2 separate regions of the Homo sapiens genome follow, and region 1 is linked to region 2. Evidence: fine-mapped expression QTL. Tissue or cell type: left ventricle. Region 2 holds a variant in brackets; the other region holds the start of a gene. All regions are shown on one strand. Distances are between the middles of the regions.

Evidence for each region. PIP is the estimated chance that this variant, and not a neighbour inherited with it, causes the effect.
Region 1: ACO1 starts here. The variant in region 2 is fine-mapped to the expression of ACO1 in left ventricle (GTEx, PIP above 0.99).

The regions. Positions count from the first base shown.
Region 1 is chr9:32,379,967-32,388,154 of GRCh38, forward strand. ACO1 (aconitase 1) reads left to right here and starts at 4,677. Exons shown (of 21, transcript NM_002197.3): 1 at 4,677-4,769. RefSeq lists a silencer at 4,478-4,857.
Region 2 is chr9:32,516,765-32,524,952 of GRCh38, forward strand. All of the region lies in intron 1 of RIGI (RNA sensor RIG-I), which reads right to left. Among named protein-coding and RNA genes, the nearest start is that of RIGI, 5.3 kb to the right of the region's middle. The variant G/A (reference allele first, on the strand shown) is at 4,527.

The sequences.
Region 1 (8,188 bases), 140 kb before region 2:
GTGACAAATTTTTATTTTTACTCTCATTTGTCAACATTACCAAATTATTTTCTTGAAAAAAATGTTTTATTTTGTGTATACCTAAATAATTTAAAGGACCAATCCTGCAGAGTACTTCCCTCTCCCTTCTGAAAAATATATAACACAAAGTACTCAAAAAGTATCCAGCAAATTAACACATGTGAAAGATGGTACTAGACACCTAGGAATTATGTACCAATCCTGGAATTCATACTCAAGCTGCCCCTGATTTCCAACACCTCCATCCCCCAGAATGAGGACTCTCTTTACCCAGGTGTCCCTACATTACATGGCTGCAGCAGGGATCTCTGTGCTATCATCAGGGAGAACAAGCCCTGGAAATACGTGAATAAGGAATTCCAGCCTATATGGTGATAGAACAAATCTTTTCTCTAGAACATTTAAGTCCCTCTTCTGCAAAGAACAAATAATTTACAGCTTCAGGGTATCTGATGATTTTGTTGCATAATGCTTAAAAGCACAAGCTATGGAGTGAGGCCAGCCTTCTCTAAAACCCCAGGATCACCCTTTAAGTTTCATGACTGAAGCATTCTGTGTAACTACTCTGAATCTCAGTTTCCTCATCTGTGAAACTATGGCAATAACAATGTTACCAGCATCAACAGGCGGTTGTGAAGATTTTTATTATTAGCTATATTGAGAGGAATGGTGCTTAACTGTAAGCAGCTGCCCAGAGGATTCTTGTTCCCTGGGAAGGCAGTTCAGGGATCAGGCCCTTAGGCAGTAATTAAGAGAGCATGCAAATTAAGCGTATAGCAGGTGTGGTGAGAAGAGGGCATCAGGGGAGAGCAGTTGGCTATTTACCGGGAACCAAGATGAGGCTAAGACCTGCCTCTCCTTGTTATGAATATAACTTTGATTTTAAGAGGAACAAAACATTTATTTCAAATTTTCTCTAGTATGAAGACATATATTCAGTGAAAAATTTAGGGATTCTAAAGTCCCCTCAAAGCATTCAGGAGGACCATTTTATACTTCATTCATTGCCAAACAGATGTCTTCCCTCCGTGCCACTCTAGAGGACTCTGAACAGCGCAAAGGCCAACAGAGAGCAAAGGGTAAGCAATAGAAAGACACTGACAGTAAGTCAGTCAACAAACTTGTATTGAGCACCTACTATGCACCAGACTCCATGTTAGGGATGATGAACAAACTGACATGGGCCCCTGCCCTCATGGAGTGTATATTTCTAGGTAACAGGTCTTTGGTGCCAATCTGGGGACATGCTACAGCAGAATCACCTGTGGTAAAAATGTAGCGTATTCAGAATCTGAACACAGACCCCCACCCTGACCTAATGAATCAGACATTCTAGGAGGCAGAGGATACAGGAGGCTATATTTTTATCAGTGCCCTATGGTAAATCTGAGAAACACCCAGATTCGGAGAACTACCATTGGTGTTTCTCAAAGCATGGTCTTTTGACCACCCACATCAAACTCAGCCTCCTAAGAGCACAACACAGGCACGCATGTTTTCAATGTACCCCAAGGTTTGAGAAGCGTTATGCTTGACTTTTTCTCTTACACCTCTCCCTTCCTATTAAATGACATGTATGTGAAAATGCAGTATAAATTGTAAAGCATGATACAAAGTTAGTTGGGTATAGTTCCTAGGACCTTTCAATAAACTGAGGAAGTCCAGCATATACAAGTAACTGAAATCGGTGTGGAATATGATGAGGCATTCCTCAGAGCTCAACAGGTCTCTGGCAGAATCTTCATGGTTCTTCTTATAGCAGCAGAGCCTTCTAGCAGGTAAGGCTGCTAAAACAATACTGTTACTTCAAATGAAGGTCCTTCTGCCTCTGCCCCCCACCAGAGCACAGCTGGGGTGCCTGAGCAGTTACATGCTTGGGTGGCATCCTCTCTGAAGGTCCCTAGAGTATATGCCCTCAGCTGGGCCATTAGCAGAACCTTTTATATCGTGACAGAAATATTTGTTAGGTGGACCCTGTGAGAGCGTAGTAATATGCCATGGCAATATACCCCTTAAACATTTAGCTTTCTCAGCAGATCATGAAATACAAATTCGGGATGCAGGATTAGGATGAAAAAGAAACTAAATGGATAGGAGGGGAGAGACAGATGGTTAGAGAAGACACTAAATTCCCATTTTAGATGTGATGAATGACAGGCACTGATATGGTTTGTAATCCCCACCTGTGGAGGGAAGGAGGTGATTGGATCATGGGGATGATTTTTATTATTAGCTATACTGAGAGAAACTGTAAGCAGCTGCCCAGAGGATTCTTGTTCCCTGGGAAGGCAGCTCAGGGATCAGGCCCTTAGGCAGTAATTAAGAGAGCACGAAAATTAAACGTATAGCAGGTGTGGTGGGAAGAGGGCATCAGGGGAGAGCCGTTGGATATTTACCGGGAGCCAAGATGAGGCTAAGACCTGCCTCTCCTTGTTATGAATTTAACTCTTTTTTTCTTAAAGAGGAACAAAACGTTTATTTCAAATTTTCTCTGGTATGAAGACATATATTCAGTGAAAAATTTAGGGATTCTAAGGTCCCCTCAAAGCATTCAGGAGGACCACTGTGCATTCAGAGGACACTCTCTTGCCTGCTGCCAGGTAAGACATACCTGCTTCCCCTTCTGCCATAATTGTAAGCTTCCTGAAGCCTCCCCAGCATGCAGAACTGTGAGCCAATTAAACCTCCTTCCCTATGAATTACCCAGTCTCAGGGTTCTTTACAGCAGCGTGAGAACGGTCTAATACAGACACCTTTGGAATATCCAGGTGGGGTTGCCACATATGGCTGCAAATCAAGAGTGTGAAGGTCAGAAAGTTAACTAAGACCAATGACAGAGACATAGCAGGCTTCAGCTAGAAGTGGCAGGCAGTCTGCATACTGAGAAAATAGATGAAGAAAAACTCAGCAAATGGAGAAACATATAAAGCAAGAGGAGAGAGTGTAGGGAAAGACCTTAAAAAAGAGGGACAAAAGAGGGAAGAGGTGACTCCTAAGAGCGGAGGGCTGAAAAGCCAAAAGGAGGTTAACATTTCTAGGAAAACGAATCGCCAGTGTCAAATACCACAGAGTAGTGAGTAAGGACAGGAACAGAGGACAGGCCCTGGGATTCACGATCTGCACGTCACTGGTGACAACGTCCAAGAGCAACAGACTGGGGGGATGTGGAACTATTTCCTTCACGGTTTTGACCAGCGTGCTTACTAATAAATCTCAATTCCCTTCATAGCTCTGATTTGATTGTTTTCTGCGAAGGATTCTCAGTTACACGGATGTTATCATTGAACATTAGATACTTTGCTTTCCGAATGGCTGCCTCATTAAGAATCGCAATTTAGCTGGATGTGTCCTCATCGGACTTCCCCAGCCTTCTACTCACTCTCACCTTGCCCCTACTCTCCCTACCTCCCAAGGGGACTGGAGCATGATTTTTCAGGGATTGTGGTGCACCTCTGCCATATGGTGGACATTCAAAGAAAATTTAATTACTAATGTGAATGGAAAGGATTTAGGAAGTGGGTGGGAAAACAGTCTCCTCTCATATTGGAAATACAGTTACTTCCCCTTTCAAAATAAATATAAGTATTTATATTTCAAAGTTAAATATAACTAGACGATAGTTGTACCCTATAGTGCAGTATGACAGGGAAGGTGTAGGCTTTGGTGTCAAACCAACCTAAGGACTGAGTCTCAGCTGTTGCGCATTGCACACCTGCAAAGACGGGTAATATTCTTTACTTGTAAGGTGGTTGGAAGAGCTGAACTGAATAACGTGGAAAGAGTCGATCACAGGGCTTTGTGCAGAATAGGAGGGCAGTATAAAGTAGCAGGGGGGCTATTAGTACTGGCTATTGTTTACTCATCCTATAAGCTGCTTATTCAGAAAACTACAGTAACTTTCCAAATAATTTGGGCAGGAAAACCTCACCACCTTTCATCTAGAAAGATCTAATCACTTCTTTGAACGCCATTCACCCAAGAGGGCACAACTCCTACCAACATGAAAAGCAGATCTTGTGAAAGCCCACTTGCTGCCATCTCCCAGCCATTTCTCCGACTTCAGACCGGTGAACATCGTGCATTAGAAAGTGTTGTTACATGTCCAAGGAAATCTACATATAGAACTTTTGCCACGGAAATGCTGAAGTCCTATTCTGACAGCGTGACTCCGATGTCCACTTGGCAGGCTTTGCGCAAAGAATTAAGGCGAGGGTGGAGAGGGTGGGTAGGGTGGGGACGGACAAAGTGAGAAGGGAGGCGGGCCAAGTGACCACACGTACATGAAGCCTCTCCAGTTATGGCCAAATCATTTTTTAAAAATAATTCCATTTCTTCCCCACCCTTTGGTCACTTCCTAACGCCGGCTGGGGAGTCACATGCTAAGCTCCAAAGTGAGCAACAGACACCCTCGTCCCAGGTCCCATGCTGGCAGAAGCGGACCCGGGCCGAGGGATCAGCCCTCCCACTTCCAGCGGAGGAGCCCTTCGCAACCCTAGCCTCCAGCCCGGGGCGAAGTCCTCCAGGCCCGCGGGGGCGCCCGCAGGCTCCGCCCCTTCTTCGGCTAGCTGCCCGTCCGTCCCGCCCCTGCTCCGCCCTTCCCGCCCCTGCTCCGCCCATCGCGCGGCGGCCCCGGGGGCGAGAGGGGGCGGAGCGTGGAGGCGGCAGCTGGAACCGCGCAGCGCACGGGAACGCGTCCCGCTGCTTGGGTCAGGTTCGCCGGTCGCGGGAGCCCCGCCGTGCAGTCGGAGGTGAGTACCGACGCGGCCCGACCCACGTCCCCAGGCGGGAGCGCCGTCCACCCTGTATCCCTCGAGAGTCGGTGCGGGCCTTTACCGAGGTGCCCGAGGCAGTGGCGGCACGGGGGACACGGAGGCGAGCTTGGGGAGGCTGAGAGGAGAATCGGGGACGTGTTTCTGGCGACTGACGTCTCCACCCTGTCCCCAGTCTATGTCATGCCGGGGAGAGAAACCAGGGATTGGAAGTGGCTTTCCTAGACCCTTCTTAGCCTTGGCTGTGCGTGCTGTCCTGAAAGTCCTTGCCTAGGGTGTGCGGCCAGTCCTGGGAGTCCTAACCCCGAGGGTGTGAGGCCCGCACTGGGAGTCCTCGCCCAGGCCCGGCTGGCTGGATAGGGAAACCCTTGCTAAAGTTGTGCGGGCAGATCCGGGAATCCACTCCAAGGGGTAAAGGGAAAATGGGATGAGGGGGAAGAGACCCTTCGTGGGAGGCTTGAACACAGAGCCCACCATGATAGATTCAGAGATCTAGAAAGGAGCTTGGGCTGCAGTTATGACCAAGTCATTTTTTTCTAGATTCAGCTAGCACATCATAATGGCATCTTCCTTCTTGCAACACATGTAACTCTCTTCCCTGGGGGACAACCTCTAGGACAGAAGTCCCCAAACTTTTCTGGTACTCAGTACTCCTTTACACTCTTAAAAATTAGTATCTTAAGGAGCTTTTATGTGTGTTATATCTATCCATATTTATAATATGTAAGTAAGACTGAGAAATTTGTACTATAATAATTCATTTAAAAAGAATAGTGAACTAATTATATCTTAACATTGCCTATTTTTATGAAAAAGAACTATATTTCCCAAAACAGAAAATGATTGAGAAGAGTGGCATTGTTTTACATTTTTGCAAATCTCTTTGATGTCAAGCGTAATTGAAGACAGCTGGATTCTGATAGCTGCTTCTGCAGTCTGTTGCAATATCACATATCATGTAGCCTCTTGAGACCTCCACTGTATACTCCTGAAAATGTGTGAATGAAAAAAAGCAAGTAACATTTTATTACTAGGAAAATGGTTTTGACTTTGGAGATCCCTAGGAGTTCTCTGCACCACACTTTGAGGATGCTGGTGTAGGAAATGCTTCAGAGGCTTCATTCATTGGGCCTGCTTCTTGTTTGTGATCCTTCCTCTGATTGGGAACACACACCACCTCATGCCATGGACAGTATTAACCTCTGGTATCTGGAACCAAGTTTGATCTCACTTTGGAAACCATGTACTAGGTCCCCACGTGAGGCTGTGATGAACCTTGCCAGCCTCCTGAAAAGTCAGCAAGGCTTCGCACATGCCTTTGGTTGTCTCTGTGCTTGCAGAGCTGACCTGTCTGTGCATCAGGATTACAACAGTGATGTGGCAAACAGGACCTGTAGGCTCACAAAAGTGCCAGTGGGGAGACCATGCCAAGTGTGTAGGGGTTCCTGTGAGAGTTACCAAGTAGTCAGGAAGTTATTTCCAAAAGAACAAGGAGGCATGCTTTTGCCTTCCCTTGCACGTGTTCATTTCTGTTTGCAGTTGCATGGTTATTAGCCTTGAGTTTATTGGAATAATGATTTCCAGTCTTGACGTTCTTTCACTTTCCACTTTCAGAGGGTGTCACTCTGAGTGGTGCTTCCTCAGCCCCTGTCAAAAAGCAGTTTCCACCATCCTGGAGTGTGGTAGGTGAGGTCCTTCACGGGACTCTTTCCTTAGCTTCGTGCCTTGTCAGAACAAGTTCAAGACAGATGTTATGTGTATATATTTGGGAGGAAGAAATTTTCTAACTCCATCCTCCCTTTTGTTCCTTCATCCATAGAGCCTCTTGTGCTCTGATGGATCAGTTTAAATGCTACAGCCGATACTTGAGAAATGTTGCATGCACATGAGCGTGTTGTGTGTGTTGCACAGTCCACAGGTGAGGAGGAGGAGAAGTCCACAGGAGAAGGAAATGGGATCTAAACTCTGAGCACCTGCTGTGTTCTTTGTATTAAAAAATTCCACTTTGATGGTGGGGTCTCATTCCTTCATTCTTTCAGTAGATTTTTATTGGCCACCTATTTCTCATGTGTCCAGTTATGTGCGGGATGCCAGGAAAGTAGTGAGCACAAAAGATGCAGTCCCTGTCTTTCTGGCAATTATGGTCTGATAGCTTTGATAACTGCTGGTTAATTGAGATAGTCTATTATATAGTCAGAGTGTGTACATGAAAGCTGGTCCTGTGTGAAGAGCAGTACCCCCTACCTAAAGTGTGCTTCAAAGGCATGTGCTGAAGAAACCAGTCCCACACTGTGAAGATGATGATAAAAACCAACGTGTATCACCACGTGCCTGGCAAAGAACTTCCTTTGCCTTCTTTCCCCCACTCTTCCTTCTACATAGGAAGTAATTTCCTGTGAGGCAGCCAGATTCACAGGGAAATTACCTCCAACCTGGTGCCAGTCACTGGGCCAGCCTCGGGTTAAGACACTTTCTCTGGGTCTCAGTGTCTTTGACTTTAAAATGAGGAGTTAGGCCATTGATAGTAAGTGTCCCAAGGAGCCAGTGGTTTCAGAGCTGGTTTATACTAGCATTTGTGCATATCTCTTCCTAACTCCGTGTTCAGTGGCAACACATTTTTTAGATTGAAATAAGCCATGGTGGGAATAATAACACCATGGAAATTGGCAAATGCTACATCAGAGCTTTTTTTTCCTCTTGGAGTTCAAGTTGTTAAACCTTTGCCAGCTGACACTGCTATTGTCTGAGCCAAGGTGCTTTTGGTTTGTTTTTTTAGTAGAAAACAGACTCTTTAGCCTAGACAAAGATCCTAGATATAGGGTGTATGATTCAAGTCCTCTAAAATTTTTGATAAGGAAAAAAATCTGTTTTCATCATATTCTAAAATATAGATCAGCAAACTTTTTGTGTAAAGGGACAGGTAGTGAAATATTTTAGGCTTTTTGGGTTATGGTTATACAGTTTCTATTGCAGCTACTCAGCTCTGGTGTTGAAGCACGAAAGCGGCAATAGACAACATGCAAACAAACAAGCATGGCTGTGTTCCAGTCAAACTTGATTTACAAAAACAAGGGCCAGCCATAGTTTGCAGACTCCTGACCTAGACTATCAGAACAAGAACCATGTTTCAAAGAGAGAGTTTTATGGAAAAGGAGATTCTTCAGGACTTTATGCGTGAATACCAGAAACTTGAGTCTCCAAGATGGACGTAGCGGGCAGTAGTAACTGTAGAGGATTTGGAATCAATCATGGAAGACTCCATAGTAGGTTGTTTAAAGGAAGGCCAAGTGTGTTGAAGTTTTGAGGACAGAGCCACATATGGGTCTTATTCCCAACTCCCTCCCTGGAGCCATCTCAGATGTTATGCTAGAATGGATGTACCTGCAGTCTAACCCGTT
Region 2 (8,188 bases):
CTGGCCAAGTTAGTGTCTTTTTTGGGTACCAGACAGTGGGATCGGCTTCTCTCAATTTGGAAAATTCCTAAGAAATTTCTGTTTGCAGGTTAATAAAGCCCGATTGAGAGAGAAAAGCACCTCGACTGTTTCAGTTTGGACACTGTTCGGGCTTGTCTATTGCTTCAGCAGTCGGATTGTGTTTTGTTGATTGTATGTGTCAATATAGTAATGGGAAATTAGAATTCAACAAACAAATATTCTTTTGTACTACGTTTGCCCCAATATTCTTTGGAATCTGGAGTTGGCTGTTGAATGGGAAAGCCAGGTGGAGTCCCATGTATTCTGGCTTTTATGCCGCTGTTTTAAGCAGGGTTGGGCCTGGTGAGTAGTTTCCACATGACGTTCTTCTGTAGTGCTGTTTGGCCCCAGGTTTCTTTGGAATCTAGCTTCTAAAAATCAAACTGCCATGGAAACTGCTTTACCCAAAATTCTGGTTCACAGCCTTCATTGGATTACCGATTGGAGCAAACAAATTTTAGCCATGTGGACTTGGTTGTAGATTCGTGAGTTTGTATTGCTATCTCATGGCTAGAGTTCCAAGGTAAAAGCTGTTGGATCTTTGTGTGTGTATACATGTTTAGATGTGTTTATCTAGATGTACATTAACTATGTTATACACTATACCTACCAAATTGGCTTATAAATAAGAGTGCTCATAAATTAAGTCCAAAGTGTTTTTCAAGTTCACATGACTTCAGTAAATCTTTAATAAACAAGCTGTCTTTAAAATTATTGGTAAAATAAAAATAGAAATGTCTTCAGAATTGTCAGCATACATTTTTGTCTCGGCTTTATATTTGTCTCAGCTAGATAATTTGAGGTATCAGAGTTTGGCAGCAGGTTATAAAGCTATAAACCCAGTGAATATTTGTGTGAATTCTTTATAAGACTAATTTAATGCTGTTAGTTTAATGAAAACAGCTGAATCTTCTGAGTTATTGATCAAAATGCCCACGTATTAATTTTAAGGTTATTTAGGTGAACACCTGACATTCACAGGTTATAAAATGGTTAAGAAGGAAATGATGCAGAAATAATCTAGATAAACTGCTAAAAATAAATAAAATGTAAATGGTCAAATGCTGTAAATGAACTTTTGGCATAATCGGAAATATAATCATTGGATGTTTGAGTCATTTCCAATTAAGAAAAGGTTATGATGTGGGGAACATGTTTCTAAAAATTGTGGAATGGTTCTCATCTATAAAATACTAATATCTGCTAGGCAGCTCAAGATTTCTTGCTTCCTAGGTTTTTACTGAAATTTAAGGTTGTTACTAAGGATAAGAATTCTAGTTCATATGTAATTCTATATATAAAATGTGCAAAAGACAATGTGTTTTTATTCAGAAAAAAATTTTATCTAACTCAGAAGTTATCTAAAGTTTATTAATAATTATGGACTTGAAAGGTTACTTATGAAACAAGGTAGAAAAGAACAAGTAGACGAGAGAGATGTGGAGAAAGTTATGAGTATAAAGATGTATTTTTGGTAAGGAAGGTTATAAAGAAAATAATTTTGTATGACAAAGCATCTTATAATGGTATTTTTTTTGTCCTAAAGTAAAATGACTGTTTAAAAAAAAAAAAAGAAGAAGAAAAAGAACGAAAATCCAGGACAAATCAGAAAGTCTAAGCATATCATAGATGGTGTGTGTAAGTCATGTAGTTTCTTTCCTATTTCTTTGTGTGTCTACCTTTATGTACAGACAGAGAAAATACAAAGTATAAAAGGCTTAAATAATATTCTCTTAAAACCAGATAGAATATTGGAGAAATCTGGCTAATTAACACTGCTCATAGTTAAAGCTCTTAGTCTTGATGAAAGTAAAATAAGAAATATTGTAAAGAAACACATTGGCAGTTTGGCAATCCTTTCTTAATATAGTTAACCATGAAGCCAGATAAAAGCCAGATATAGCAACAACCAAATTTCACCTACATGCTTGCATTGCTTCACACTGTATTTGCTCTTCTGCATAGATATACTATCATTACAGTATAATACTTACTGGTCGGCCTCCTCCAGAGTAGCTGGGATTATAGTTGTGTGCCATCATGCCTGGCCAATTTTTGTATTTTTAGTAGAGATGGGGTTTTACCATGTTGGCCAGGCTGGTCTCAAACTCCTGGCCTCAAGTGATTCACCCATCTTGGCCTCCCAAAGTGCTGAGATTACAGGCCTGAGCCACCACGCCCAGCCTAAAGTGAATTTCTTAATTGCACAAAATATATAGTGGTATTGGTGAACTTAAAGACATTAAATTGTGCATCAGGAACAAAATATTCATCATGTGTTTTTTTGGCTCTGGGTAACACTATAGCCTCCAAGTTAAACTGAGTAGAAAATTTTCAGGTTGGTTTCCTGTTTGTTTTTTCTTTTAATTTGCATTTATTTGCTGTTTCTTCTTCTTTAGGTTTTACTTATATATACATATTAATAAAACCATTGATGGCTTTTAGTTTCTAATGTAAGGAAGGCTTTTATTTGGTTCCATGAATAATCATTTTGTTTCCTATGCATTTCCAGTATCTCATCATTTGCTCTACTTATCCAAAGTTCCTAAGCTACCTTTTTCAAGCTTCCAAAAATTGTTGGTGGACACCAGCCTTTAAAATTTGTTTGGTTTTGCTTACCTCTAATGAACTAGAGAGCTATAAGAACTTTAAGATTCCTGGCAAAAAATAATAAAAGGTTTATTCTTCTAAGTTCTGAACAGAAATAGTACATTATTATTGGTTATTTGGAAAAGTAGGTGAGAGAAATGTTTAAGTGGTGTTTATTTCCAAGGTAATTCAATTCAATAAACAATAGCGGTTTCAGATCTTTTCCTTTAATGAGGCAAAACTGCTATATGGGTACAAAGTCTTAATATTCAGAAAAAAATTGGCTTTGTCTTTAAGGAAATTATATTGATTGGGCTTTCTCTCAAACTAATTTAGTTGTGTTTACTATTATTAAGATTAAATAACATTTACTTGGATTAAGTCATAAAAAAAATTATAAGACTTTCTAGTGTTTTTTTTATCCTAAGCCATTTATCACTGATGGGCCTTCACATGTATACTTGAAAACAAAATATGTACATACAAGTGTTATGCCAGTTTGAAGATTCTAGTGGTGTAAGTCACTTAAATCAGTTGTCAGTACTTTATCTAGAAACCAATCTTGGAAATGTATGATGAGGCTCTTTCAAAATAGCTGAAAAGAAATTACTGTGTGCTTATTGTCACTTTGTCCTTGTTTTGTTGTATACTTTTTAAATGAAAGATTTATCTTCATATTGAATTTCCAAAACTGATACTTGCATTTACCATTTTTTTTTTTAATGATGGAAAGAAAAGTTAACTATCTTACTTTGGTAAGTTTGGCACAGGACTTACCACATTTTTGAGGCTCTAGGTCACAGTTTTGTCACTAGAATGCTAGCAGATAAATGCAAGGAGTAACCTAACCACTTTAATACAATGGATTGTATAATGGGTTGAAGTGTTTCAGACAGTAACTACTAGGCACCAAATCCCAGGGTTTTATTTTGTGACATATTAGAGAGAATGATGAGGTTTCCTGCAGTATAAATATGCTATTAAATAATTCTTAGGAAACAATTATTTAGTAATTCAAAGGCCTTTGACTCCTGGATCCAAAAAAGACACCAATACCTGCTAAATCTTGAGCACTGACACCAAATGAAGCCTCGTCTTCAGACTCAGGAGAAGGTGACAATCAAAATGAACTGCTTTCATGAGACATAGGGCTAGAAATTAAAACCATTCAATCCCTCTACGCCCAGGAACTATTGCACAAAAGGTGAGCACGTGAGCTTGTAAGGGCTGATTTTGAGTTATAAAATTAGTTCAGGGTTTTTCTATAAATTAAACATTAACATCAAAAGCACACTGATGCAAGGCCAATGTCTGGGCCCCTGTGTCATAACAGGGTTTTCTTGGAGCATTACTCTACTCTTTAATAGGAAATCGTAAAACGTTATAAAAAGATGGCTGGGTGTGGTGGCTCAGGCTGGGCGTGGTGGCTCAGGCCGGGGCTGGTGACTCAGGCCGGGTGTGGTGGCTCACGCCTGTAATCCCAGCACTTTGGGAGGCCGAGGCAGGCGGATCAGCTGAGGCCACGAGTTGGAGACCAGCCTGGCCAACATGGTGAAACCCCGTCTCTACTAAAAATACAAAAATTAGCCAAGTGTGGTGGCATGGCCTGTAATCCCAGCTACTAGGGAGGTTGAGGCAGGAGAATTGCTTGAACCCAGGAGGCAGAGGTTGCAGTGAGCCAAGATCGCACCACTGTAGCCTGGGCAACAGAGCCAGACACCATCTCAAAAAAAAAAAAAAAAAAAAAAACTTCACAGAAATCCTATCTTATAGTCAAACTGATTAAAATTCGGCTTATAAGGTTTTATTAAAATTAGCTTTAACATTAAAAATATACCATACAAAGGTAAAATTTGATGTTCTCTTTTGAATAAAAT[G/A]TTTGTATAATATTGACATAAAATATTTGTTTACCTTTTGAGTGAACTGTGGGGGGAAGAAAAGGAAGAGGGAGAGACATTTAGTTGGCCTCATGCTGTCTTTATTAGGCCTTATTGTTGGGAAACTGAGTCGCCTATCAAAGGGTAAATGTGTTTGTTTTATCTTTTTGGCTAAATGAATAACTATTTTGTAGCGACCTGTGATCCTATTTTGTGATATCAAGTGTCTTAAATCTTTGATACTGACAGACTTCCCAACAGCAAATATTTCAAGTTCTAAATTCAGGGGGTTTTTTTTAACCTCAAACTAACTTTTTTGTGTATTAGCTTCCTTGAATTCCAATACAGACAGACATGTTAGGCTTCTTTGGTATATTAGAATTATACAGGCAGCATTATCAAATGTGAGGTGGTATTTAACTTCCTTTGGGTTATATTTGTATAGATGTGCTATTAATATGTGTTGCAGGACTATATGAGATTCCTAAAATTCTGATATGTCTTAATATATGGTGTCAGTAATGATGATTATTATGTTAAATTGTTGTATGCCAACAGAAAAAAAAATTTCCTTGTCAACTGTGTCTTTATGGCTCTCCTAAGACTTTTGTCATTGCAATTGTTGTTTTGCATTGATTCTTTTCAAAAAGTGACTTATAATCAGATATAGTCCAGAGCTTGTTTATTTAGGGGACTTCATGAAAAGGAGTCTTGAATGCAGATTTCTGATAACTTTGGAGACTGTGCCACTGGAATACAGAAAACTTCTAGGACTCTTAATTAGAGTCCCTCTTAATTAAAAGGCTGACATGTTTATAAAGATTACTAACCCAATATGAAACACAGCAGGAGTTGATTGCATGGACTGAACTAATGTGGGACTGAAATAATTTTTTATGGTTTTGTTTGAAAAAGTCTGGAGAATTTTTGTTTTTTGGAATCTGGAGAATTTTTTCTTTTAAGCTCTTCATAACCTTTAAGAATACAGTATATTAAGTAGAGTATACCCTTTTAAACAGAATTTGAGGCATTTTCTCTCTCCCTAATTTCTCCAGAATTTATAAACTATTTGTGAATATTCTTAGTTCATGGCAATGTGTTTTCTTGCATACATTTAATAAAAATCTGTTTTCTTTTATAAGGGGACACAGTTGGAGGAACAAGTTATTTTCCCAGGGCTTTGACTGAAATGGCCTTGTGAGAGGTTCCAGCAAAGCCAATTAGGAGAGCCCATATGGACAATAATTTTTGCTGCACTTTGTGTGGGTAAATAAGCCAAGTATATGTAACTGAGGCTTATTTTGCAGGTAGGCCCATCCAGCTGTGATATGTCTTTGGTGGAAGCGGGGAACAGTAATGATACAGATTGTGTCTCAGAAGAAAACTATAGTATTAGATTAACTTTTGATTCCTGGATGGCCACGTGGTCACCCATAGTATGGAACTGCCCACCACGCCATTCCTCAGCATGAAGCTGCCAGAAAGATTGAGGATCAGATTCCCCATGATCCAGGAATTGATAAATAGAAAGAGGGGGACTGAAACCAACACAATAGTCCCATATACAATTCTTTCGAATAAACATGGAAATTGACCCTCCTGATCTTAAAGCTGAAACTTATATTTGTTTTATCTGAGTTCCTTCCCCAGGAAAAGGACCCCCAGGCCTCTCAAAAGGTATAAAAGAACTGAAACTCATCAGACCATCACATCCAGACAATGAGACACCAGGCCCCTCATTTATCATGATTGCTTCCTTACCCCTCCAGAGTCCATTTTCCAACACCTAGTTATATTTCTTTCCTTCTATCCATACCCCTAATTTCAACGGGTCAGGGAGATGGATTTGAGACTGATCTCCTACCTCCTTTGCTGCAGCTCCCAATTAAAGCCTTGGCAAAACTTGTTGTCTCAGTGATTGGCTTTATGTGCAGCCAGCAAAAGAACCTAGGCTGAATCCCTGGTGTTTCAGTAACAATTGCACCCACTCTCATTGTTTCAGCAAGGATCTCCACATTAATGTCTCCCCAACTGTGGACCCTTTTCCTGAACTCCACACCTGTGCAGCCAACAATCTGATGAACATCTCTTCATGGATGTATCCAAGGCATACAAACCCAGCATACCTAAATCCGAATTTTTCTCCTCCTCCTGCAAACCTGTCCCTCTTCCCACATTTCCTATCTCAGAAACTACCATTTATTCACCCAAGGACCAAAGCCAGAGACCTGGAAGTCATTTCCACCCTGTCCTCACCCTTACCTCCTCACCACAACTCCCCAAGAGACCTATTGATTATACTTTCCAAATGTGTCTTGAATCCATCCATTTCTCCCCATTCCTCCGGATTCCTATTTTCCTAACTGGTATCCTTGCTTCCAGTTTTTCCACTCTGCTGTCCTGGCATCATTGCATCTGCCATTCTCTCTCTCCCTGTCTTGTACCTATTCAAGCCATTCCTCAAACTGAAGTCAAAGTCGTTTTTCTACAATGCAAATTCTATTTTGGTCCCCTCTCCTTATCACATTTCAGTGGATAAAGTCCAAAACTGTTCATATCCCACTTCTGCTTGCCTGTCAAGTTTCATCTCTCTGAACTCCTGCCTCTCTCTCCACAATGCCACCATACTAATATTTTCTGGATACCTGGAACACTCTAGTTTCTCTTTCACCTTGGACCTTTGCACATAAGGAGCCCTCTAACTGCAATTTATTGTCTCCTTCCAGCTAATTTTTCCTCTTTCTTTAGACCTCAGTTCAAATGCCAAATATCTGGGAAGCTTTGGCTGTGCCCTTTGGACTCTAGTAGACATCCCAGCTTTTTTCCATCAAAGCACTGCTGCACTTTATTATTTACTATTTTGTTACCTGCATTCACATAGACACACTAATCACTATTAGGGCAGGGACAGTTTCTACTGTGCTCATCATTGCTTCCTCAACTTTCAATGACACTATTAGGTAATAGGTGCTGAGTAAATTACCTCCAATGCTAACATAATACTGACACGAGTTGCTTATTTTATTCCATCAAAGTGTATCAAATCAATATATGAGTGCATGAAAAAATGGAATTCACACCAGTTGTTAGTGTTTCTTCCAAGTACTTCTTCAGGTGCCAAGCTACACTGGTCACTAGAATGCCATTCCACAACCTTTCTTTTAGTTTTGTAGAGCAATTAGCATTCAAGTTAGTTGCCGGTCTTAACGCCATTTCCAAAAACTGCAATAACATCAGGAAAGACTGGCACTTGGAGACTTTTAGGATTCCCAGGCCCCCTCTCATCGACTTTTTTTTGTTTTTCGGTTTTTTTTTTTTTTTTTTTTTTTTTTTTGGAGACAAGAGTCTCACGATGTCACCCAGGCTGAGTGCAGTGGTGCGATCTCACCATAACCTCTGCCTCCCTGGTTCAAGCGATTTTCATTCCTCAGCCTCCTGAGTAGCTGGGACTACAGGAGTGCACCACTACGCCTGGCTAATTTTGTATTTTTCGGTAGAGACGGGGTTTCACCATATTGGCCAAGCTGGTCTCGAACTCCTGACCTTGTGATCCACCCGCCTAGGCCTCCCAAAGTGCTGGCTGCAGGGAGCCGAAGGCCCTTGGGATGTGACCAACTCAGCATTCCGCTGGAGGCTATATGATCAAACAGCAAACTGTTTAT